Linked DNA regions of Homo sapiens: region 1 is linked to region 2. Evidence: fine-mapped QTL for protein levels in blood plasma. Region 2 holds a variant in brackets. A gene starts in the other region. All regions are shown on their reverse strands.

Evidence for each region. PIP is the posterior inclusion probability: the model's chance that the variant is causal. Protein levels are from antibody-based Olink assays in UK Biobank. Linkage for the fine-mapping came from a reference panel and not from the study's own genotypes, which makes the PIPs less certain.
Region 1: it holds the start of EDA2R, and the variant in region 2 is fine-mapped to the plasma level of the EDA2R protein (UK Biobank, PIP above 0.99).

The regions. Positions count from the first base shown.
Region 1 is chrX:66,638,600-66,653,606 of GRCh38, reverse strand. It overlaps EDA2R (ectodysplasin A2 receptor), which reads left to right and starts at 14,529. Exons shown (of 7, transcript NM_021783.5): 1 at 14,529-14,612. RefSeq lists an enhancer at 14,709-15,007.
Region 2 is chr5:1,272,807-1,281,657 of GRCh38, reverse strand. It overlaps TERT (telomerase reverse transcriptase), which reads left to right. Exons shown (of 16, transcript NM_198253.3): 4 at 1,320-1,500; 5 at 2,188-2,367; 6 at 2,862-3,017. Among named protein-coding and RNA genes, the nearest start is that of TERT, 18 kb to the left of the region's middle. RefSeq lists a silencer at 4,670-4,964. The variant G/A (reference allele first, on the strand shown) is at 1,983.

The sequences.
Region 1 (15,007 bases), not on the chromosome of region 2:
ATTGTTTGTGGCTGGACATATGGTCTATTCTGGAGAGTGTTCTGTGTGTGCTGAATAGAATGTGTATTCTGCTGCTGTTGGATGGAATGTTCTGTACATGTGTGTTGAGCCAGTTGTTCAAATCCACTGTTTTCTTATTGATTTTCTGTCCAGATGATCTATCCATTGTTGAACATGTGGTTTTGAAGTTCTCTACTGTATTTTGCATTTGCTACTATTTTTGCATTTGCATTTTTGCAGAAATGCAAAATAGTCTTCCTTCAGCTCTGTTAATATTTGCTTTATATATTTAGTTGCTGTCATGCTGGTTGCATATGTATTTACAATTAATTGCTATGCCTTCTTGATGAATTGTCCCCTTTATCATTATATAATGCTTTTTTGTCTTTTGTCACAGTTTGGACTTAAAATCTCTATTTTGTTTGATATTAGTAGACATATCCCTGCTCTTTGTGATTACCCATTGTATGAAGTATGTTTTTCCATACTGTCACTTTCAGCCTATCTGCATCCTTCAAGCTGAACTGTGACTCTTGTAGAAAACATAAGTTGGATCTTGTTTTTCTATTTAGTCACTTTATTCCTTTTTATTGGAAAATTGAATCTATTTTCATTTTAAGTAATTTTTGATACTAAGAACTTACCACTGCCATTGTGTTTTCTGTCTCTTTTGTAATTCTTTTGTTCATCTGTTCCTCTCTTGCTGTCTGTCTTTGTGATTTGATGACTTTTACCAGTATGTTTTGTTTTCTCTTTATCATCTGTGTATCTAATATTCGCTTTTTATGTAGTTACCATGAGACTTAGAATATACATCTTACATAAAATTGTGTACTATTTGCATATAACCTTCACATATCTATTCATGTATACTTTAAATCATCTCTAGATGTAAGCATAATATGTAATATTATGTAAATTCTATGTAAATACCTGTTATACTGTATTTTAAAATTTGTATTATTTTATTGTTATTGGGTTTTAAAACATATTTTTGATCTGTGGTTAGTTGATAATCTGGATGCTGAACTTGCATATATGGAGTGCTAACTGCATACTGGTTTCCTTGATGGTATCCCATAAGTCCCACATGCTTTCATCACCTTTTTCTTTTATTTTTGTTACTGTTGCTTTTGAGTGGGCAATTTCAAATAATCTGTCTTGTGGTCACTGCTTTATTTTTCTGTGTTATTGAGCCTGTTATTTCCAGCTTTCTCTAGAAATTTTTAGTTCAGTCATTGTGCTCCAGAATTTCTATTTGGTTCCCTTTTATGCTTTCTATCTCTTTGTCAAATGTTTCATTTTTTTGAAGTATTGTTTTCCTGTTATCATTTATCCACAGCAAAGGGCCTGGAGCCTGGGTTCACTGTAGCAGGCCTCTATCCTGGGTCTGCAGGTGGCATACTAGATTCTAAGTCTGCAGTTGGTGGCCTGGAAGCTAGGTCTATAGGGGTTGGCCTGGATGCTGGATCTGTGGGAGCAAGCCTAGTATGTGTCTGGGCCTGAAGGATGAGTCTGTGGGCTAAGCCTGGATCCTGGGGCTGTGGGGGGTAATTCTGCAGCCTAAGGCCATAGGCTGGCCTGGTGCTGGGGCCTACTGAAGCAGGTCTGGTCTCGGGGTCCACTGGAGTGTGGGGCCATGAATACTAGCATAGAGCCTTGGTGTGTGCATGCTGGCCTCATGCCTAGTGCCATGTAAGCCAAACTGGAGGTGGGGTCTGTCAGTTTTGTTCTGACACTCTAGCAGGCCTGGAGGCTGGGTCTGTGGATGCCAGCATGGAGTCTAATGCTGTGGGGACTAGCCTGGTGCTGGGGCTTCTCCAGAGTATGGGAGGGGCCTGGAACCTCAATATATAGGGACTGGCCTATAGCTGTGGTGAGCCTGGTAACTAGGCCAGATATATTAGTATGGATAATTTACCTATCATTTATGTGCCTCAATTTTCTCATGTATAAAATAGGAGCAATGTCATGGTTTTTGCCGAGACATGGGGGAGGGATAATATGGATAACATAAAACTTTCTTTCCTTCCCTCTTTGATGTGTCTTTTCTTATTTCTGTGCTATGTCCAGGTGCTATAATCTCTCGCCTGGATTCCTTTACTCTTGTGAACATATTTTTGTTCATGGATAGTTTTATTTTTTGTAATTGTCATTGTTTGTGTTGCTTGTTTGTTTTGGTTTTTAAGAGAGTTTTGCTCTGATCACCCAGGTTGGAATGCAGTGGCATCATCTATAGCTCACTGCAGCTTTAAACTCCTGGGCTCAAGCAATCCTCCCACCTCAGCCTTTCAAGTAGCTGATACCACAGGCTCATACCATGACAATAGGCTAATTACTTTTTTTTTTTTTTGTAGAGATTGGGGTCTCGCTTTGTTGCTCAGGCTATGGATTGTTTTTCAAACTGATGTTTCTACAAGAGGATGAGTGCTGAAAAGTTCTATCCAACAATGTTGCTGCTGTCACTCCCACTTAATGTTTTATATGTTTACTTGTTTCACTTTTAAAAATGGAGCTAATTATGGAGCTGCTCTGGAAGGGTTAGTGAAATAACTTACATAAATTACCTAGTATAGTGCCTGTATATAGTGCACATCCAACAGACAGCAATTCTGCCCTTTCCAATTAGTAAATTGCTACAATAAGAGTAATTCCACTTTCCTGTGATTATAAAGATTGAATGAGGTACATGTATACAGGACTTTAAAGGGTTATATCCCACATTACTTTAAAGTAATATTATTAACAAATACATGTGTAGAATAGTCATTATTGCAGAGCCTTCTGGTCAGTGTGTGCTGAGCTTCTGAGCATAGGCCTGCTAAGGTATAGAGTAGGCATAGAGGGTTTGGCTACTTGTCTGAGTCAGAACTACATTTGAAGTGATTTGAGTAAGGTGAGAGCAGACAATAAGGGGAAGTAATGATAAGGAAAGTACTCATGTAACCAAATACCACCTGTACCCCAATAACTTATGGAAAAATATTAATTTTAAAAATAAAAAAATAAATAAATGAAAAGAAAAAGAAAAATAGAAGGAAGCTAGGGGACAGGATTCTTTTTTCAACATTAGAAATAGTGTTTTCCAAGAAAAGAGTGACCACTACTGGAAAAAGCTGTGGATAAATCAAGTAAGAAGACGAGTGAAAAAAGCAAGTCGGGCAGTTCCAACATGGCCGAATAGGAACAGCTCCAGTCTACAGCTCCCGGCATGAGCGACAAAGAAGATGGATGATTTCTGCATTTCCAACTGAGATTCGAAGACACTAGTTGTTCTCCCAGAACGCAGCTTGAGATCTGAGAATGGACAGACTGCCTCCTGAAGTGGGTCCCTGACCCCCAATTAGCCTAACTGGGAGGCACCCCCCAGTAGGGGCAGACTGACACCCCACACGGACAGGTACCACTCTGAGACAAAACTTCCAGAGGAACGATCAGGCAGCAACATTTGCTGTTCACCAATATCTGCTGTTCCGCAGCCTCTGCTGCTGATTCCCAGGAAAACAGGGTCTGGAGTGGACCTCTGGCAAACTCCACAGACTTGCAGCTGAGGGTCCTGACTGTTTGTTAGAAGGAAAACTAACAAACAGAAAGGACATCCACACCAAAACCCCATCTGTGCGTTACCATCATCAAAGACCAAAGGTAGATAAAACCACAAAGATGGGGAAAAAACAGAGCAGAAAAGCTGAAAATTCTAAAAATCAGAGCCCCTCTCCTCCTACAAAGGAAAGCAGCTCCTCACCAGCAACGGAACAAAGCTGGATGGAGAATGACTTTGACAAGTTGAGAGAAGAAGGCTTCAGAGGATGAAACTTCTCCGAGCTAAAGGAGGAAGGTCAACCCCATCGCAAAGAAGTTAAAAACCTTGAAAAAAGATTAGGCAAATGGCTAACTACAATAACCAATGCAGAGAAGTCCTTAAAGGACCTGATGGAGCTTAAAACAATGGCACAAGAACTACATGATGAATGCACAAGCCTCAGTAGCCAATTCGATAAACTGGAAGAAAGGGTATCAGTGATGGAAGATCAAATGAATGAAATAAAGTGAGAAGAGAAGTTTAGAGAAAAAGGAAATGAACAAAGCCTCCAAGAAATATGGGACTATGTGAAAAGACCAAATCTACATCTGATTGGTGTACCTGAAAGTGATGGGGAGAATGGAACCAAGTTGGAAAACACTCTGCAGGATATTATCCAGGAGAACTTCCCCAATCTAGCAAGGCAGGCCAACATTCAAATTCAGGAAATACAGAGAATGCCACAAAGATACTCCTCGAGAAGAGCAACTCCAAGACACATAATTGTCAGATTCACCACAGTTGAAATGAAGGAAAAAATTTTAAGGGCAGCCAGAGAGAAAGGTTGGGTTACCCACAAGGGGAAGCCCATCAGGCTAACAGCTGATCTCTCAGCAGAAACTCTATAAGCCAGAAGAGAGTGGGGGCCAATATTCAACATTCTTAAAGAAAAAAATTTTCAATCCAGAATTTCATATCCAGCCAAACTATGCTTCATAAGTGAAGGAGAAATAAAATCCTTTACAGACAACCAAATGCTAAGAGATTTTGTCACCACCAGGCCTGCCCTAAAAGAGCTCCTGAAGGAAGCACTAAACATGGAAAGGAACAACTGGTACCAGCCACTGCAAAAACACGCCAAATTGTAAAGACCATTGAGGCAAGGAAGAAACTGCATCAACTAACGAGCAAAATAACCAGCTAACATCATAATGACAGGATCAAATTCACACATAACAATATAAACCTTAAATACAAATGGGCTAAATCCTCCAATTAAAAGACACAGACTGGCAAATTGGATAAAGAGTCAAGACCCCTCAGTGTGCTGTATTCAGGAAACCCATCTCACGTGCAGAGACACACATAGGCATAAAATAAAGGGATGGAGGAAGATCTACCAAGCAAATGGAAAACAAAAAAAAGGCAGGGGTTGTATTCCTAGTCTCTGATAAAACAGACTTTAAACCAACAAAGATCAGAAGAGACAAAGAAGGCCATTACACAATGGTAAAGGGATAAATTCAACAAGAAGAGCTAACTATCTTAAATATATATGCATCCAATACAGGAGCACCCAGATTCATAAAGCAAGCCCTTAGAGACCTACAAAGAGACTTAGACTCCTACACAATAATAATGGGAGACTTTAACACCCAAATTTAAACAAAAGACAGACCAACGAGACAGAAAGTTAACAAGGATATCCAGGAATTGAACTCAGCTCTGCACCAAGTGGACCTCATAGACATCTACAGAATTCTGCAACCCAAATCAACAGAATATACATTCTTCTCAGCACCACACCGCACTTATTCCAAAATTGACGGCATAGTTGGAAGTAAAGCACTCCTCAGCAAATGTAAAAGAACAGAAATTATAACCAACTGTCTCTCAGACCACAGTGCAATCAAACTAGAACTCAGGATTAAGAAACACACTCAAAGGCGCTCAACTACATGGAAACTGAACAACCTGCTCCTGAATGACTACTGGGTACATAACGAAATGAAGGCAGAAATAAAGATGTTCTTTGAAACCAACGAGAACAAAGACACAACGTACCAGAATCTCTGGGACACATTTAAAGCAGTTTGTAGAGGGAAATTTATACCACTAAATGCCCACAAGAGAAAGCAGAAAAGATCTAAAATTGACACCCTAACATCACAATTAAAAGAACTAGAGAAGCAAGAGGAAACACATTCAAAAGCTAGCAGAAGGCAAGAAATAACTAAGATCAGAGCAGAACTGAAGGAGATAGAGACACAAAAAAAGCTTCAAAGAAACCAATGAATCCAGGAGCTGGTTTTTTGAAAAGATCAACAAAATTAATAGACTGCTAGCAGGACTAAAAAAGAAGAAACGAGAAGAATCAAACAGATGTAATAAAAAGTGATAAAAGGGAGATCACCACCGATCCCACAGAAATACAAACTACCATCAGAGCATACTATAAATACCTGTACGCAAATAAACTATAAAATCTAGAAGAAATGCATAAATTCCTCAACACATACACCCTCCCAACACTAAACAAGGAAGAAGTTGAATCTCTGAATAGACCAATAACAGGTTCTTAATTGAGGCAATAATTGATAGCTTACCAACCAAAAAAAGTCCAGGACCAGATGGATTTACAGCCGAATTCTACCAGAGGTACAAAGAGGAGCTGGTACCATTCCTTCTGAAACTATTCCAATGAATAGAAAAAGAGGGAATCCTCCCTAACTCACTTTATGAGGCCAGCATCATCCTGATACCAAAGCCTGTCAGAGACAAAACCAAAAAAGAGAATTTTAGACCAATTTCCTTGATGAACATTGATGCAAAAATCCTCAATAAAATACTGGCAAACCAAATCCAACAACACATCAAAAAGCTTATCCACCATGGTCAAGTGGGCTTCATCCCTGGGATGCAAGGCTGGTTCAACATATGCAAATCAATAAACATAATCCAGCATATAAATAGAACCAACGACAAAAGCCACATGATTATCTCAATAGATGCAGAAAAGGCCTTTGACAAAATTCAACACCCCTTCATGCTAAAAACTCTCAATAAATTAGGTATTGATGGGATGTATCTCAAAATAATAAGAGCTATTTATGACAAACCCACAGCCAATATCATACTGAATAGGCAAAAACTGGAAGCATTCCCTTTGAAAATCAGCACAAGACAGGGATACCCTCTCTCACCACTCCTATTCAACATAGTGTTGGAAGTTCTGGCCAGGGCAATTAGGCAGGAGAAGGAAATAAAGGGTATTCAATTAGGAAAAGAGGAAGTCAAATTGTCCCTGTTTGCAGATGACATGATTGTATATCTAGAAAACCCCATTGTCTCAGCCCAAAATCTCCTTAAGCTGATAAGCAACTTCAGCAAAGTCTCAGGATACAAAATCAATGTGCAAAAATCACAAGCATTCTTATACACCAATAACAGACAAACAGAGAGCCAAATCATGAGTGAACTCCCATTCACAATTGCTTCAAAGAGAATAAAATACCTAGGAATCCAACTTACAAGGGATGTGAAGGACCTCTTCAAGGAGAACTACAAACCACTGCTCAACGAAATAAAAGAGGATACAAACACATGGAAGAACATTCCATGCTCATGGATAGAAAGAATCAATATCATGAAAATGGCCATACTGCCCAAGGTAATTCATAGATTCAATGCCATCCCCATCAAGCTACCAATGACTTTCTTCACAGAATTGGAAAAAACTACTTTAAAGTTCATATGGAACCAAAAAAGAGCCCACATTGCCAAGTCAATCCTAAGCCAAAGAAGAAAGCTGCAGGCATCATGCTACCTGACTTCAAACTGTACTACAAGGCTACAGTAACCAAAACAGCATGGTACTGGTACCAAAACAGAGATATAGACCAATGGAATAGAACAGAGCCCTCAGAAATAATACGACACATCTATAATTATCTGATCTTTGACAAACCTGATAAAAACAAGAAATGGGGAAAGGATTCCCTGTTTAATAAATGGTGCTGGGAAAACTGGCTAGCCATATGTGGAAAGCTGAAACTGGACCTCTTCCTTACACCTTATACAAAAATTAATTCAAGACGGATTAAAGACTTAAATGTTAAACCTAAAACCATAAAAACCCTAGAAGAAAACCTAGGCAATACCATTCAGGACATAGGCATGGACAAGGACTTCATGTCTAAAACACCAAAAGCAATGGCAACAAAAGCCAAATTTGACAAATGGGATATAATTAAACTAAAGAGCTTCTGCACAGCAAAAGCAACTTCCATCAGAGTGAACAGGCAACCTACAGAATGGGAGAAAATTTTTGCAATCTACTCATCTGACAAAGGCCTAATATCCAGAATCTACAATGAACTCAAACAAATTTACAAGAAAAATCAGACAACCCCATCAACAATGGGCGAAGGATATGAATAGACATTTCTGAAAAGAAGACATTTATGCAGCCAACAGAGGCATGAAAAAATGCTCATCATCACTGGCCATCAGAGAAATGCAAATCAAAACCACAATGAGATACCATCTCACACCAGTTAGAAGGGCGATCACTAAAAAGTTAGGAAACAACAGGTGCTGGAGAGGATGTGGAGAAATGGGGACACTTTTACACTGTTGGTGGGACTGTAAAGTAGTTCAACCATTGTGAAAGTCAGTGTGGCTATTCCTCCGGGATCTAGTACCAGAAATACCATTTGACCCAGCCATCCCATTACTGCATGTATACCCAAAGGTGCATAAATCATGCTGCTATAAAGACACATGCACACGTATGTTTATTGCAGCACTATTCACAGTAGCAAAGGCTTGGAACCAACCCAAATGTCCAACAATGATAGACTGGATTAAGAAAATGTGGCACATATACACCATGGAATACTATGCAGCCATAAAAAATGATGAGTTCATGTCCTTTGTAGGGACATGGATGAAGCTGGAAACCATCATTCTTAGCAAACTATCGCAAGGACAAAAAACCAAACACCACGTGTTCTCACTCATAGGTGGGAATTGAACAATGAGAACACTTGGACACGGGAAGGGGAACATCACACCCGGGGCCTGTTGTGGGGTGGGGGAAGGAGGGAGGGATAGCATTAGGAGATACACCTAATGTAAATGATGAGTTAATGGGTGCAGCACACCAACATGGCACATGTATACATATGTAACAAACCTGCATGTTGTGCACATGTACCCTGAAACTTAAAGTATAATAAAAAAAAGAAAAAAAAAGATGAGAGAAAATGTTTCCTAAAATTTGGCAGTTAAGTGGTCCCCTGTAGCTTTAGGGAGAACAAATGGGGCTAGAAGCCAGATTATAGTAGGTTGGGGAGCTAATGGAAATTAAAGTCATGGAAACAGTTATTAGAGAAAACTCTATCCAGAAATTTGGCTAAGAAAAAAAATGAGACGAGGCTGTTGTTTGAGAAAGAGGAAATGTGGTAGAAGGGTTGATTTTATTTTGTAGTGGGAGGAATTCAAATATGTTTACGAGTTAAAGGGGTAGGCACAGAAGACAGGTAAATAATGATGCCATAGAGAGTGGGGGTAATTGATGGAGAAAGATTCATAAATATCAGGGGAGGCATTCTCTCCTCTTCTTCAAGAGGAAAGGCCAAGATGAATGAAGACAGAGAGAACCTTATAGGAATTAGGGAAGAAGTTATAGGCACTAAATGCCTAATAGAATCTGTTTTATTGATGAAGAAGAAAAGAGTCAATGTTTCTGGGCTAAGAATTCAGTGCTAAAGTAGGAACTTAACCTTTACTTCTAAAGGTAGAGGTTTAGAATAGCTCTTCAGAGAGGATGGAAGGAGCCTCTGATTGGAAGGGAAAGCAAGGATTGTACATTTGAGTGTGACAGTGAATAATTAAGGCATCAGCTATTCTTGAGAATCCTGGGTCAATTGCCACTTATTGGTTGTGGCACTGATAGATGGCATAGATAAGTCACCTATCGTTTCTGTGCCTCAATTTTGTCATCTATAAAATAGGAGTGATGTCATGGTTTTTGCCTCATAGGATTATTGTGATGATTAAATGAGCTATTGCATACAGAACATTTGGCATAGGGCCTGACATATAGAGTTCATCAAGCATTGATCAAGTGTTGGCTATTATTATTATTTTGGGTGTGGGTTTCAATTCCTTTTTAGCCATCTTATTTTTATTGTGGCACACCTGAGGCCTGGGAGCTCATTATAGAAGGATACATTCAAATGTGAACATTTTTCTCCTTGGGCTTATTCAACAGATATATTGATATATATAATATGTAAAAATGTATTGAGCGCTTAAAATACTCTAGGTACAGTTTTGCATGTGGAAATTTGTGAAATGGTATATAAGGTCCCTGCCACATAGGTTCACACTCCAGTGAGAGAAGTTAGAATCAGGCCAGAGGGACAATGGAGGGTGGGAGGAACTCTGTAAAATCCCTGCACTTGAGGGGCAAGTGGAGAATGAGAATCCATAAAATGCTGTAGAGAAATAAGTGAAACTAGAAGACATTAGTTCCATGAAAGTCAAGGGAAGAGAGTCAGAAAGAAAAGAATCCAGACAATGTTGGATGTTTTAGATAATTCAAATAAGAAAACAGAAGAATCCATGGGTTTGATAGTATGAAAATCATGGGTGACCTTGAGAAGAGCAAAATGTAGTGAGTTTGGAAATGAAGAGGTGGAGGTGAGGATATGAAAAGAATTAATCTTAGTTCAGAATGGAAAGACAATTTAGGAGAAAGAGCCAGAGGAAGAAAGACCATGAAGATACAAATAAAGCAAAATGGAATAGACAGGAGTAAACACAGATGGAGACAGGAGGGACAGGAGGAAACTCTGAGGTAAGAAACAGGATGAACTTGAATGTGGAGATGTCAGAAGTTGTTTAGACTTCAAGTTTCGTGCCCTTTTACATTCTCGGTGAAACTGGAGGTGAAGTCATCTGCTAGGGGTTTGGGAGCTGTGTTGAGCACTTGACTTAAGAAGAGTGAGTTTTAAAAGCCATCTTGGGCAAGTGGAATAGAAGATTATTTAAAATGAGAGATAACACTATTGGACTGTGCTAGAATCTAGCTGAAGTTTGAAAATTCCCATGGCTAGAAGTAACTCTTATACCCCAGCTTTCTAATTCAGAAGACCTAAGCCTGTATACACCACTGCAGCAAACATTTATGGCCAAGTTTATCTACACACATCTCACAGGCTAAAGAGAACAAGAAGCTGATATTGTGTTCAGGGACATCCTTAGCAATGTTTGAGTTTACAGGGGTTGCCCCACAGGCCTCAGCATCCCCTTAGTCTTTCAGCTTCTTTTCCTGCCCCCTGGTCCCAGTCTTGAGAGGAGCTATAAGGGCCCCATTCTGCCTGGATAACCATGAAGCTCCTTCATGAAAGGTGGTCCTGCCATTGTTGGACACTAGAATTAGAGGCTACCCAGGATTCTCTGAGACACAGCCAAGGCCAGTATTCCCCTGAGTGACCCTAAGTAACCTCTGAGAGAGAGCTGAGGGGTGGCATCAGAGAGCCCTGAATCTCACTGAGCCCCAGAATCTGTCTGGTCCCAGAGATAAGCAGAGTGGAGGCTGGTCCTGCCTATCCTGCTGTCAGGTTAGGCTGGTTCCAGCAGTAGAATGTAGGTAGAGAAACTCTGTACTGATAGTTCTCAGTTTGGGTTCACAAAGTGACTCCTGTTTATCATAAAAGGAGGGGCTGTGGAAAGCCCCCAAGAAATTAGCTGATCCAAACTTAGTTCTGCTGCACAAGCACATGGAGCTAGAGTGGCTCCCCCACAGAGAGCAGAGTTGAGAGCCTTAACCCTACTCACCACCACACTGCACCGGGGGTCCTGGGGCTATGTTGAGAAAAAGCTCACCTACCCAGTGGATTTCAAAAGGCCTAGGCAATCCCATTAGCTTGTACTAGCTAGGGTATTCAAGAAAGTCCACTTTGATAAAGTGACATTTAAGCAGGGATATGGAGGAAGTGAGAAAAGGAGCCATGCTGATATCTGGGGGAAGAATTGGCTAGGCTGAAGGAGCAGCAAGTGCAAAGACCAGAGTCTTGAGCATGCTTTGAGTGTTGGAAAAAATATCAAGGCCGCCAGTTGGGGTTGGGTATGGTGGTCAAGGCGAGTGGTAAGAGGTGAGATCAGAGATAGAGGGGCAGGTTAGTGAGGATGGGATGGCGTGGGATAGATTGTAGACTATTATAGACCATAGTTAAGGATTTTGGGTTTTCTGCTGAATAAGAAGCCAACCAGTAGAATTGCTTGGACAGACTTAGACTGATGTACTTTTAAAAGGATCATTCTGGTTGCTCTGCTGAGAATTGACTGGAGTGGGGTAAGCATGAGAGCAAGGAGAGCTATTGGAGGATATGGCAATAATTCAGGTGAAAAGTAATCGTGGCTTGCACCAGAGTGGTTGCAGTGAAGGTGCTAAGAAGTTGGTGAAATTCAGAGTTTATCTCTGAGGCAGGAGGCAGAGCTGATAGGATGTGCTGATGGGTTGAATGTGAGGTGTGAGCAAAAGGAGAGGGGAGGATAATTCTAATGATTGTGGCTTCATAGATTATGAAGATAAAATGAATTAATTCATGAAAAAAATTTGAGCAGTGCCTGGCAAGTGCTTAGTGAGGGCCAGCTAACTGTTATAGTATTATTGGACAAGTTATGGTGGAGGACAGTGGTTTCATATTTGCTGCTTATAATCACTTTCCACAATAGCTTGTGGACTCTGACATATCCCTGGTACCTCTATCTCAAGTTTCCTCCTGTACTTCCAGGCAGAATCACAGAGTACAAGGAGCCTCTTCATCTACAAAATGAGGATGGTAACCTCAACCTCATAGAATGGTTGTAAGGTATAAAGGGACACATATGCATGATTTATAGGTGCTCAGTAAATGTTATTCTTGTCCACCTTCTAAACCTTTGCTACTAAAACTATGGTCTGTGGCCCAGCACCATCAATATCACCTGGAAGCAGTTAGAAAATCAGAGTCTTAGTCCCACACCACAGCTGCTAACTCAGAATCTGTGTTTTAACAAGATCCTTAGGTGATTTGTGTGCACATTAATATGAGAGAAGCACGGCTCTAGCGTTTCAAGGTCATCCAGTCCAACAGTCTCTTCAGGATACAGATGCAGAAAGGAAAACTAAGAGAGAGGAAGAGATTTACATGATGTTACACTTAGTTTTGTCAAGACATCTAAATTCCAAGCTAGGGTTCTTTACACTAAAGTTTCAAAACTGTCTGTAATTCAGCTTCTCTGGGTAGGAAAGGATGGAGAAAAAGAAGAGGTCCTGTTTTCTAGGAAAGGACAGAACAGAATTAGGAGGTACCCAGGGTAGCTATTTTCATTTGAATCTCACAGATGATTTCAGAGGTCCCTAAATTGCATTCATGTATTTATTTATATTTAATAAACACTTCTATACCACTACGTCCCAGAAATCATTCTAAGCTCCTTACGCATATGAACACTATTTTGTATATTAACTCATATAATACCTAAAACAATCCTATGAGTAAGGGATTGTTATTTTCCCCACTTTACAGAAGAGAATCCTGAGCCACAGAGTGGTTAAGTAACTTGCCTTAGGTCACAAAGCTAGTAAGGGGCAGACCTAGGATTCCAATTCTGGCAGTTTTCCCTTCTACTAGGCCTGAGCCCACAGTAGCCTATTCTGGTCTTAACTCTAGCTAGGGGACAGATATGAAGTTCATTTAGGACTTTTTCTACTTCAGCTTAGGGCCTATTCAGCCCTTTCCCACCAAAGGCTTTTCAGCTGCTTTACTGAGACTCCACCCTGAGCTGGCATATAGCCTCTGCCCAGTACAGGAGGGGTCCCTCAGAGACTGATAATGGCTCATTTCTTGGTCCTCTCCCCCATACCTTGGCTCAAGCTTTTCTTTTCCTCTACCCATTAGGCTATTTCCTCTTTGACCTCTTTTAAAAGCTCCTAATCTATTGAAAAGCATTTGCTTTCCTTGTCAGACTCTTTTTTACTCCTTCTTCCTACTGGCCCCCAAACCCTTCCAGTCTGCACCTCATAGTTTGGCCCTTAATTCTCTGTCTCTGTCCGGTCTACTTTATCTTCCCAGCTCTGCAAACTCTTCAAGGTCAGGGACTAGTAACGTTTCGGGATTTATCCACCGCTGCCTCTGAGATCATGGATTAATAAACTCCCAAAGTGTCATTGTTTGAAGTGCCCTTAGAGACTACGTAGCTCAACCCCCTCCTTGTACAGACACTCAGGGGCCCAGAGAAGATGGATGATCAAAGCTGAGTGCCGAATCCAATTTTCCTTTATTTTTAGTGGTCTTTTCCCTGCTTCATGTCTGCTCTCTTCCTCCTGTCACAATCCTATCTACCCTTCTGAATGGAGGAGTATTTTTTTGAGGCAGATGCAGAGCTGGAAAGCGGCTTCTCCATGTGTCTGAAAATTTTGGCTTTTCCAACAATAATTTTCCCTGTCAAACTCCAAGCCTGCTAAGTCATGAATAAACTTTGATGAGCTGAGCTGCATTCAGCTGTGAAAGAGACAACTTGATGCTTTCTCTGGACCCCACTCCCTGGCCCTCTACTCTCTGGCCCCCGCTTCAGTCCCAGGAGATTTGCAGCTCCTGCCATACCAGTGGCTGGGTCACTGTTCTTCAGCCTCACATTGTTCCTCTCAAAGGCAGTTTCTTTTCGTAGCCACGCCTAGGCACTCAAACAGTCCAATAGCTGCTCTAGGAACTTCACGGGGGCGGAAGAGGTAAGCTTACCGTGAAAGGAGGGTTTGGGCTGTTGTTGCTACACGTGGATGTGAAATGAGTCAAGCGGAACTTTGATTACAAGGAATTTCATATACTGTGAGTGTGTATGCAGGCTGGGGGCTGAGGGGCGGGGGCTGAGGGGCGGGGCTGATGGGCGGGTCTGAGGGGCGGGGGCTGAGGGGCGCGGGGTGAAGGGCGGGGGGTGACGGGAGGGGGCTGGGTGAGATGTGTGCTCTGCGCTGAGGTGGATTTGTACCGGAGTCCCATTTGGGAGCAAGAGCCATCTACTCGTCCGTTACCGGGTGAGTGTGGGAACACCCCCTGGTGTGGCAAGGCGGCTGGGACCTGCGGCATCTAGGTGCAGAAGTACAGAATCAGGTCAGGATGATCCTGCTAGGGTACCGCAAAATCAGAACAATTGGGAAGGCGCCCTGTGGCTGGCTGTCAGTCCATCCATTTGTGTCCGGAGAGCGCTTTCTGAGGTATCAGGGATCTGGGCTGACATCTCTAGGATCTTGGCGAGCCATTTCCTGTAGGCTCTTACTGGACCTGCATTGCCTCTGAGAACATGCCTGGACGTGTCCAACAACCTTGAGCATCTAGGGTTGGGAGATAAAGAAGAGAAGGAGGCTGGGTGTTAGTGAAGGCGGGGACAGTGGATCAGACTTGTGGAGCATCCTGAGGAAAGCAGAACTGC
Region 2 (8,851 bases):
GCTAACTTCTAGGTGGCTGCATTTGAATGGCTGTGAGATTTTGTCTGCAATGTTCGGCTGATGAGAGTGTGAGATTGTGACAGATTCAAGCTGGATTTGCATCAGTGAGGGACGGGAGCGCTGGTCTGGGAGATGCCAGCCTGGCTGAGCCCAGGCCATGGTATTAGCTTCTCCGTGTCCCGCCCAGGCTGACTGTGGAGGGCTTTAGTCAGAAGATCAGGGCTTCCCCAGCTCCCCTGCACACTCGAGTCCCTGGGGGGCCTTGTGACACCCCATGCCCCAAATCAGGATGTCTGCAGAGGGAGCTGGCAGCAGACCTCGTCAGAGGTAACACAGCCTCTGGGCTGGGGACCCCGACGTGGTGCTGGGGCCATTTCCTTGCATCTGGGGGAGGGTCAGGGCTTTCCCTGTGGGAACAAGTTAATACACAATGCACCTTACTTAGACTTTACACGTATTTAATGGTGTGCGACCCAACATGGTCATTTGACCAGTATTTTGGAAAGAATTTAATTGGGGTGACCGGAAGGAGCAGACAGACGTGGTGGTCCCCAAGATGCTCCTTGTCACTACTGGGACTGTTGTTCTGCCTGGGGGGCCTTGGAGGCCCCTCCTCCCTGGACAGGGTACCGTGCCTTTTCTACTCTGCTGGGCCTGCGGCCTGCGGTCAGGGCACCAGCTCCGGAGCACCCGCGGCCCCAGTGTCCACGGAGTGCCAGGCTGTCAGCCACAGATGCCCAGGTCCAGGTGTGGCCGCTCCAGCCCCCGTGCCCCCATGGGTGGTTTTGGGGGAAAAGGCCAAAGGGCAGAGGTGTCAGGAGACTGGTGGGCTCATGAGAGCTGATTCTGCTCCTTGGCTGAGCTGCCCTGAGCAGCCTCTCCCGCCCTCTCCATCTGAAGGGATGTGGCTCTTTCTACCTGGGGGTCCTGCCTGGGGCCAGCCTTGGGCTACCCCAGTGGCTGTACCAGAGGGACAGGCATCCTGTGTGGAGGGGCATGGGTTCACGTGGCCCCAGATGCAGCCTGGGACCAGGCTCCCTGGTGCTGATGGTGGGACAGTCACCCTGGGGGTTGACCGCCGGACTGGGCGTCCCCAGGGTTGACTATAGGACCAGGTGTCCAGGTGCCCTGCAAGTAGAGGGGCTCTCAGAGGCGTCTGGCTGGCATGGGTGGACGTGGCCCCGGGCATGGCCTTCAGCGTGTGCTGCCGTGGGTGCCCTGAGCCCTCACTGAGTCGGTGGGGGCTTGTGGCTTCCCGTGAGCTTCCCCCTAGTCTGTTGTCTGGCTGAGCAAGCCTCCTGAGGGGCTCTCTATTGCAGACAGCACTTGAAGAGGGTGCAGCTGCGGGAGCTGTCGGAAGCAGAGGTCAGGCAGCATCGGGAAGCCAGGCCCGCCCTGCTGACGTCCAGACTCCGCTTCATCCCCAAGCCTGACGGGCTGCGGCCGATTGTGAACATGGACTACGTCGTGGGAGCCAGAACGTTCCGCAGAGAAAAGAGGGTGGCTGTGCTTTGGTTTAACTTCCTTTTTAAACAGAAGTGCGTTTGAGCCCCACATTTGGTATCAGCTTAGATGAAGGGCCCGGAGGAGGGGCCACGGGACACAGCCAGGGCCATGGCACGGCGCCAACCCATTTGTGCGCACAGTGAGGTGGCCGAGGTGCCGGTGCCTCCAGAAAAGCAGCGTGGGGGTGTAGGGGGAGCTCCTGGGGCAGGGACAGGCTCTGAGGACCACAAGAAGCAGCCGGGCCAGGGCCTGGATGCAGCACGGCCCGAGGTCCTGGATCCGTGTCCTGCTGTGGTGCGCAGCCTCCGTGCGCTTCCGCTTACGGGGCCCGGGGACCAGGCCACGACTGCCAGGAGCCCACCGGGCTCTGAGGATCCTGGACCTTGCCCCACGGCTCCTGCACCCCACCCCTGTGGCTGCGGTGGCTGCGGTGACCCCGTCATCTGAGGAGAGTGTGGGGTGAGGTGGACAGAGGT[G/A]TGGCATGAGGATCCCGTGTGCAACACACATGCGGCCAGGAACCCGTTTCAAACAGGGTCTGAGGAAGCTGGGAGGGGTTCTAGGTCCCGGGTCTGGGTGGCTGGGGACACTGGGGAGGGGCTGCTTCTCCCCTGGGTCCCTATGGTGGGGTGGGCACTTGGCCGGATCCACTTTCCTGACTGTCTCCCATGCTGTCCCCGCCAGGCCGAGCGTCTCACCTCGAGGGTGAAGGCACTGTTCAGCGTGCTCAACTACGAGCGGGCGCGGCGCCCCGGCCTCCTGGGCGCCTCTGTGCTGGGCCTGGACGATATCCACAGGGCCTGGCGCACCTTCGTGCTGCGTGTGCGGGCCCAGGACCCGCCGCCTGAGCTGTACTTTGTCAAGGTGGGTGCCGGGGACCCCCGTGAGCAGCCCTGCTGGACCTTGGGAGTGGCTGCCTGATTGGCACCTCATGTTGGGTGGAGGAGGTACTCCTGGGTGGGCCGCAGGGAGTGCAGGTGACCCTGTCACTGTTGAGGACACACCTGGCACCTAGGGTGGAGGCCTTCAGCCTTTCCTGCAGCACATGGGGCCGACTGTGCACCCTGACTGCCCGGGCTCCTATTCCCAAGGAGGGTCCCACTGGATTCCAGTTTCCGTCAGAGAAGGAACCGCAACGGCTCAGCCACCAGGCCCCGGTGCCTTGCACCCCAGTCCTGAGCCAGGGGTCTCCTGTCCTGAGGCTCAGAGAGGGGACACAGCCCGCCCTGCCCTTGGGGTCTGGAGTGGTGGGGGTCAGAGAGAGAGTGGGGGACACCGCCAGGCCAGGCCCTGAGGGCAGAGGTGATGTCTGAGTTTCTGCGTGGCCACTGTCAGTCTCCTCGCCTCCACTCACACAGGTGGATGTGACGGGCGCGTACGACACCATCCCCCAGGACAGGCTCACGGAGGTCATCGCCAGCATCATCAAACCCCAGAACACGTACTGCGTGCGTCGGTATGCCGTGGTCCAGAAGGCCGCCCATGGGCACGTCCGCAAGGCCTTCAAGAGCCACGTAAGGTTCACGTGTGATAGTCGTGTCCAGGATGTGTGTCTCTGGGATATGAATGTGTCTAGAATGCAGTCGTGTCTGTGATGCGTTTCTGTGGTGGAGGTACTTCCATGATTTACACATCTGTGATATGCGTGTGTGGCACGTGTGTGTCGTGGTGCATGTATCTGTGGCGTGCATATTTGTGGTGTGTGTGTGTGTGGCACGTGTGTGTCCATGGTGTGTGTGCCTGTGGTGTGCATGTGTGTGTGTCTGTGACACGTGCATGTTCATGCTGTGTGCTGCATGTCTGTGATGTGCCTATTTGTGGTGTGTGTGTGTGCATGTGTCCGTGACATATGCGTGTCTATGGCATGGGTGTGTGTGGCCCCTTGGCCTTACTCCTTCCTCCTCCAGGCATGGTCCGCACCATTGTCCTCACGCTCTCGGGTGCTGGTTTGGGGAGCTCCACATTCAGGGTCCTCACTTCTAGCATGGGTGCCCCTGTCCTGTCACAGGGCTGGGCCTTGGAGACTGTAAGCCAGGTTTGAGAGGAGAGTAGGGATGCTGGTGGTACCTTCCTGGACCCCTGGCACCCCCAGGACCCCAGTCTGGCCTATGCCGGCTCCATGAGATATAGGAAGGCTGATTCAGGCCTCGCTCCCCGGGACACACTCCTCCCAGAGCGGCCGGGGGCCTTGGGGCTCGGCAGGGGTGAAAGGGGCCCTGGGCTTGGGTTCCCACCCAGTGGTCATGAGCACGCTGGAGGGGTAAGCCCTCAAAGTCGTGCCAGGCCGGGGTGCAGAGGTGAAGAAGTATCCCTGGAGCTTCGGTCTGGGGAGAGGCACATGTGGAAACCCACAAGGACCTCTTTCTCTGACTTCTTGAGCTATCGCAGCTACTTGCAAATCTCAGCAGAATTTTACCCTCATGGAAAGCTGATGGCCACCACCTGTGCCCAGGTGTAGAAAGTCACTAGAGCCCAGGAGACCCCCCCGTCCCCACCGCCCACCTGTGCCCGGGTGTAGAAAGTCACCAGAGCCCAGGAGACCCCCCCCCACATCCCCGCTGCAGCGGAAGCTACCGCCCCCACCGTGACCCTCGTTCCGACCTCGACCTCCATGGTCTCCCTCTCCCGGTCTCCATGTGAGTGAGATCAGGCAGGAGGTGGGTTTTGGGGTTCGAGCCTCAGCTATGCTGAACGCCTCAGCTGTGCGTTCTGTCCATGAATGGCATCCGTTGTGGAACTCGCCACGTGGATGTATCCTTCCCGCTGCTGTGGAGGCTCCTGGGTGCGGACTGCACGGCTGCGCCTGCTGTGAGCCTGCTGGGTTCTGGGAGTGTCCCAGGGGTCAGAGGCCCTCGCCTCTGGGTGAATTCCAGGGGTGGGGTTGCTGGGTCACAGACGTGCTTTAGGGATGTTGTGGGAGTTTCCAGGGGGGTGACAGTGACACCCCGGCTGGCTGCTTGTGAGGGCGATGCCTCCGGTGGCCGCTGGCCTGAAGGTGTCGAAGCCGCCTCGTGGGATTGTGCAGGGGGCTCTCTTGATGCCCACGTGCCCACAGTGTTCCCGTGCTGGCCGCCCCGGGGCTCTTGCGGGAGGTGGCTGTCCGTCCTGCCCCGCTCTGTATGGGGCGCCTGCCTGCCATCATCGGCTTGCAGGAGCTCTTTGTGTGTTCTGCTGCAAGTGTGGCATCACATGCGTGCACTGTGAATCTCTGTGCCGTGTGTGTCTTGCTTTTGTGCTCTCAAGTCAAGCCTTTTGAGGACTGGAAGATTGTACTTCTATCGCAGTCCACTAACACAGTCCAGTAACGCAGTCCACTTTATCAGCTGTTTGTGGCTAAAGCTGTTTGTGTTCTCTGCAGGAACTCAAGGTATTGAGGTTGTGGTGACGTTGCTTCTGCGCCTCCTTTTAGAACAGTCTTTACTGTGTCAGCTTGCAAACCTGGGTGGGGATTGGTGGAATTGGTTTTCATGTGTGGGGTAGGTGGGGATCTGTGGGATTGGTTTTCATGTGTGGTGTAGGTGGAGATCTGTGAATTGGTTTTCATCCGTGGGGTAGGTGGGGATCTGTGGGATTGGTTTTTATGTGTGGGGTAGGTGGGATTGGTTTTCATGTGCGGGGTAGGTGGGGATCTGTGGGATTGGTTTTCTTGTGTGGGGTAGGTGGGGATCTGTGGGATTGGTTTTTATGTGTGGGGTAGGTGGGGATATGTGAATTGGTTTTCATCCGTGGGGTAGGTGGGGATCTGTGGGATTGGTTTTTATGCGTGGGGTAGGTGGGGATCTGTGAATTGGTTTTCATCCGTGGGGTAGGTGGGGATCTGTGGGATTGGTTTTCATGTGTGGGATAGGTGGGGATCTGTGGAGTTGGTTTTCATGTGTGGTGTAGGTGGAGATCTGTGAATTGGTTTTCATCCGTGGGGTAGGTGGGGATCTGTGGGATTGGTTTCTATGTGTGGGGTAGGTGGGGACCTGTGGGATTGGTTTTTATGTGTGGGGTAGGTGGGGATCTGTGAATTGGTTTTCATCCGTGGGGTAGGTGGGGATCTGTGGGATTGGTTTTCATGTGTGGGGTAGGTGGGGATCTGTGGGATTGGTTTTCATGTGTGGGGTAGGTGGGGATCTGTGGGATTGGTTTTCATGTGTGGGGTAGGTGGGGATCTGTGGAGTTGGTTTTTATGTGTGGGGGTAGGTGGGGATCTGTGGAGTTGGTTTTCATGTGTAGGGTAGGTGGAGATCTGTGGGATTGGTTTTCATGTGTGGGGTAGGTGGGGATCTGTGGGATTGGTTTTCATGTGTGGGGTAGGTGGGGATCTGTGGGATTGGTTTTCATGTGTGGGGTAGGTGGGGATCTGTGGAGTTGGTTTTCATGTGTGGGGTAGGTGGAGATCTGTGGGATTGGTTTTCATGTGTGGGATAGGTGGGGATCTGTGGGATTGGTTTTTATGAGTGGGGTAACACAGAGTTCAAGGCGAGCTTTCTTCCTGTAGTGGGTCTGCAGGTGCTCCAACAGCTTTATTGAGGAGACCATATCTTCCTTTGAACTATGGTCGGGTTTATAGTAAGTCAGGGGTGTGGAGGCCTCCCCTGGGCTCCCTGTTCTGTTTCTTCCACTCTGGGGTCGTGTGGTGCCTGCTGTGGTGTGTGGCCGGTGGGCAGGGCTTCCAGGCCTCCTTGTGTTCATTGGCCTGGATGTGGCCCTGGCTACGCTCCGTCCTTGGAATTCCCCTGCGAGTTGGAGGCTTGCTTTCTTTCTTTTTTTCTTTCTTTTTTTTTTTTTTTGATAACAGAGTCTCGCTCTTTTTTGCCCAGGCTGGAGTGGTTTGGCGTGATCTTGGCTCACTGCAACCTGTGCTTCCTGAGTTCAAGCAATTCTCTTGCCTCAGCCTCCCAAGTAGCTGGAATTATAGGCGCCCACCACCATGCTGACTAATTTTTGTAATTTTAGTAGAGACGAGGTTTCTCCATGTTGGCCAGGCTGGTCTCGAACTCCTGACCTCAGGTGATCCTCCCACCTCGGCCTCCCAAAGTGCTGGGATGACAGGTGTGAACCGCCGCGCCCGGCCGAGACTCGCTTCCTGCAGCTTCCGTGAGATCTGCAGCGATAGCTGCCTGCAGCCTTGGTGCTGACAACCTCCGTTTTCCTTCTCCAGGTCTCGCTAGGGGTCTTTCCATTTCATGACTCTCTTCACAGAAGAGTTTCACGTGTGCTGATTTCCCGGCTGTTTCCTGCGTAATTGGTGTCTGCTGTTTATCGATGGCCTCCTTCCATTTCCTTTAGGCTTTGTTTATTGTTGTTTTTCCGGCTCCTTGAAGGAAAAGTTTCGATTATGGATGTTTGAACTTTCTTTTCTAAACAAGCATCTGAAGTTGCCGTTTTCCCTCTAAAGCAGGGATCCCGAGGCCCCTGGCTGTGGAGTGGCACCGGTCTGGGGCCTGTTAGGAACCCGGCGCACAGCGGGAGGCTAGGTGGGGTGTGGGGAGCCAGCGTTCCCGCCTGAGCCCCGCCCCTCTCAGATCAGCAGTGGCATGCGGTGCTCAGAGGCGCACACACCCTACTGAGAACTGTGCGTGAGAGGGGTCTAGATTCTGTGCTCCTTATGGGAATCTAATGCCTGATGATCTGAGGTGGAACCGTTTGCTCCCAAAACCATCCCCTTCCCCACTGCTGTCCTGTGGAAAAATCGTCTTCCACGAAACCAGTCCCTGGTACCACAATGGTTGGGGACCCTGTGCTAAAGACCTGCTTCAGCAGCCTCTCGTCAGTGTTGATATATTGGCTTTTCTGTGTTGAGTCCAGAATAATTACGGATTTCTGTGATGCTTTCCGCCGACCTCAGACCCATGGGCTATTTGTGGGCGTGTTGCCTGCTCCTGGGTTGGGAAGGGTGCAGGCCCCATGTACCTTCCTGTTACTGCCTTCCAGGTTGGTTCTCAGGGTTGAATCGTACTCGATGTGGTTTTAGCCCACGGCCCTGCCGCCAGCTCCTGGGGGCTGGGGAACATGCTGAAGCACAGAGTCACCGTGCGCGTCTTTTGATGCCTCACAAGCTCGAGGCCTCCTGTGTCCGTGTTAGTGTGTGTCACGTGCCTGCTCACATCCTGTCTTGGGGACGCAGGGGCTTAGCAGGTCCCGTAGTAAATGACAAGCGTCCTGGGGGAGTCTGCAGAATAGGAGGTGGGGGTGCCGGTCTCTCTCCCGCGTCTTCAGACTCTTCTCCTGCCTGTGCTGTGGCTGCACCTGCATCCCTGCAATCCCTCCAGCACTGGGCTGGAGAGGCCCGGGAGCTCGAGTGCCACTTGTGCCACGTGACTGTGGATGGCAGTCGGTCACGGGGGTCTGATGTGTGGTGACTGTGGATGGCGGTTGGTCACAGGGGTCTGATGTGTGGTGACTGTGGATGGCGGTCGTGGGGTCTGATGTGGTGACTGTGGATGGCGGTCGTGGGGTCTGATGTGGTGACTGTGGATGGCGGTCGTGGGGTCTGATGTGTGGTGACTGTGGATGGCGGTTGGTCCCGGGGGTCTGATGTGTGGTGACTGTGGATGGCGGTCGTGGGGTCTGATGTGGTGACTGTGGATGGCGGTCGTGGGGTCTGATGTGGTGACTGTGGATGGCGGTCGTGGGGTCTGATGTGTGGTGACTGTGGATGGCGGTTGGTCCCGGGGGTCTGATGTGTGGTGACTGTGGATGGCGATCGGTCACAGGGGTCTGATGTGTGGTGACTGTGGATGGCGGTCGTGGGGTCTGATGTGTGGTGACTGTGGATGGCGGTCGTGGGGTCTGATGTGGTGACTGTGGATGGCGGTCGTGGGGTCTGATGTGTGGTGACTGTGGATGGCGGTCGTGGGGTCTGATGTGGTGACTGTGGATGGCGGTCGTGGGGTCTGATGTGTGGTGACTGTGGATGGCGGTCGTGGGGTCTGATGTGTGGTGACTGTGGATGGCGGTCGTGGGGTCTGATGTGTGGTGACTGTGGATGGCGGTCGTGGGGTCTGATGTGGTGACTGTGGATGGCGGTCGTGGGGTCTGATGTGTGGTGACTGTGGATGGCGGTTGTGGGGTCTGATGTGTGGTGACTGTGGATGGTGATCGGTCACAGGGGTCTGATGTGTGGTGACTGTGGATGGCGGTCGTGGGGTCTGATGTGTGGTGACTGTGGATGGCGGTTGGTCCCGGGGGTCTGATGTGTGGTGACTGGATGGCGATCGGTCACAGGGGTCTGATGTGTGGTGACTGTGGATGGCGGTCGTGGGGTCTGATGTGTGGTGACTGTGGATGGCGGTCGTGGGGTCTGATGTGGTGACTGTGGATGGCGGTCGTGGGGTCTGATGTGTGGTGACTGTGGATG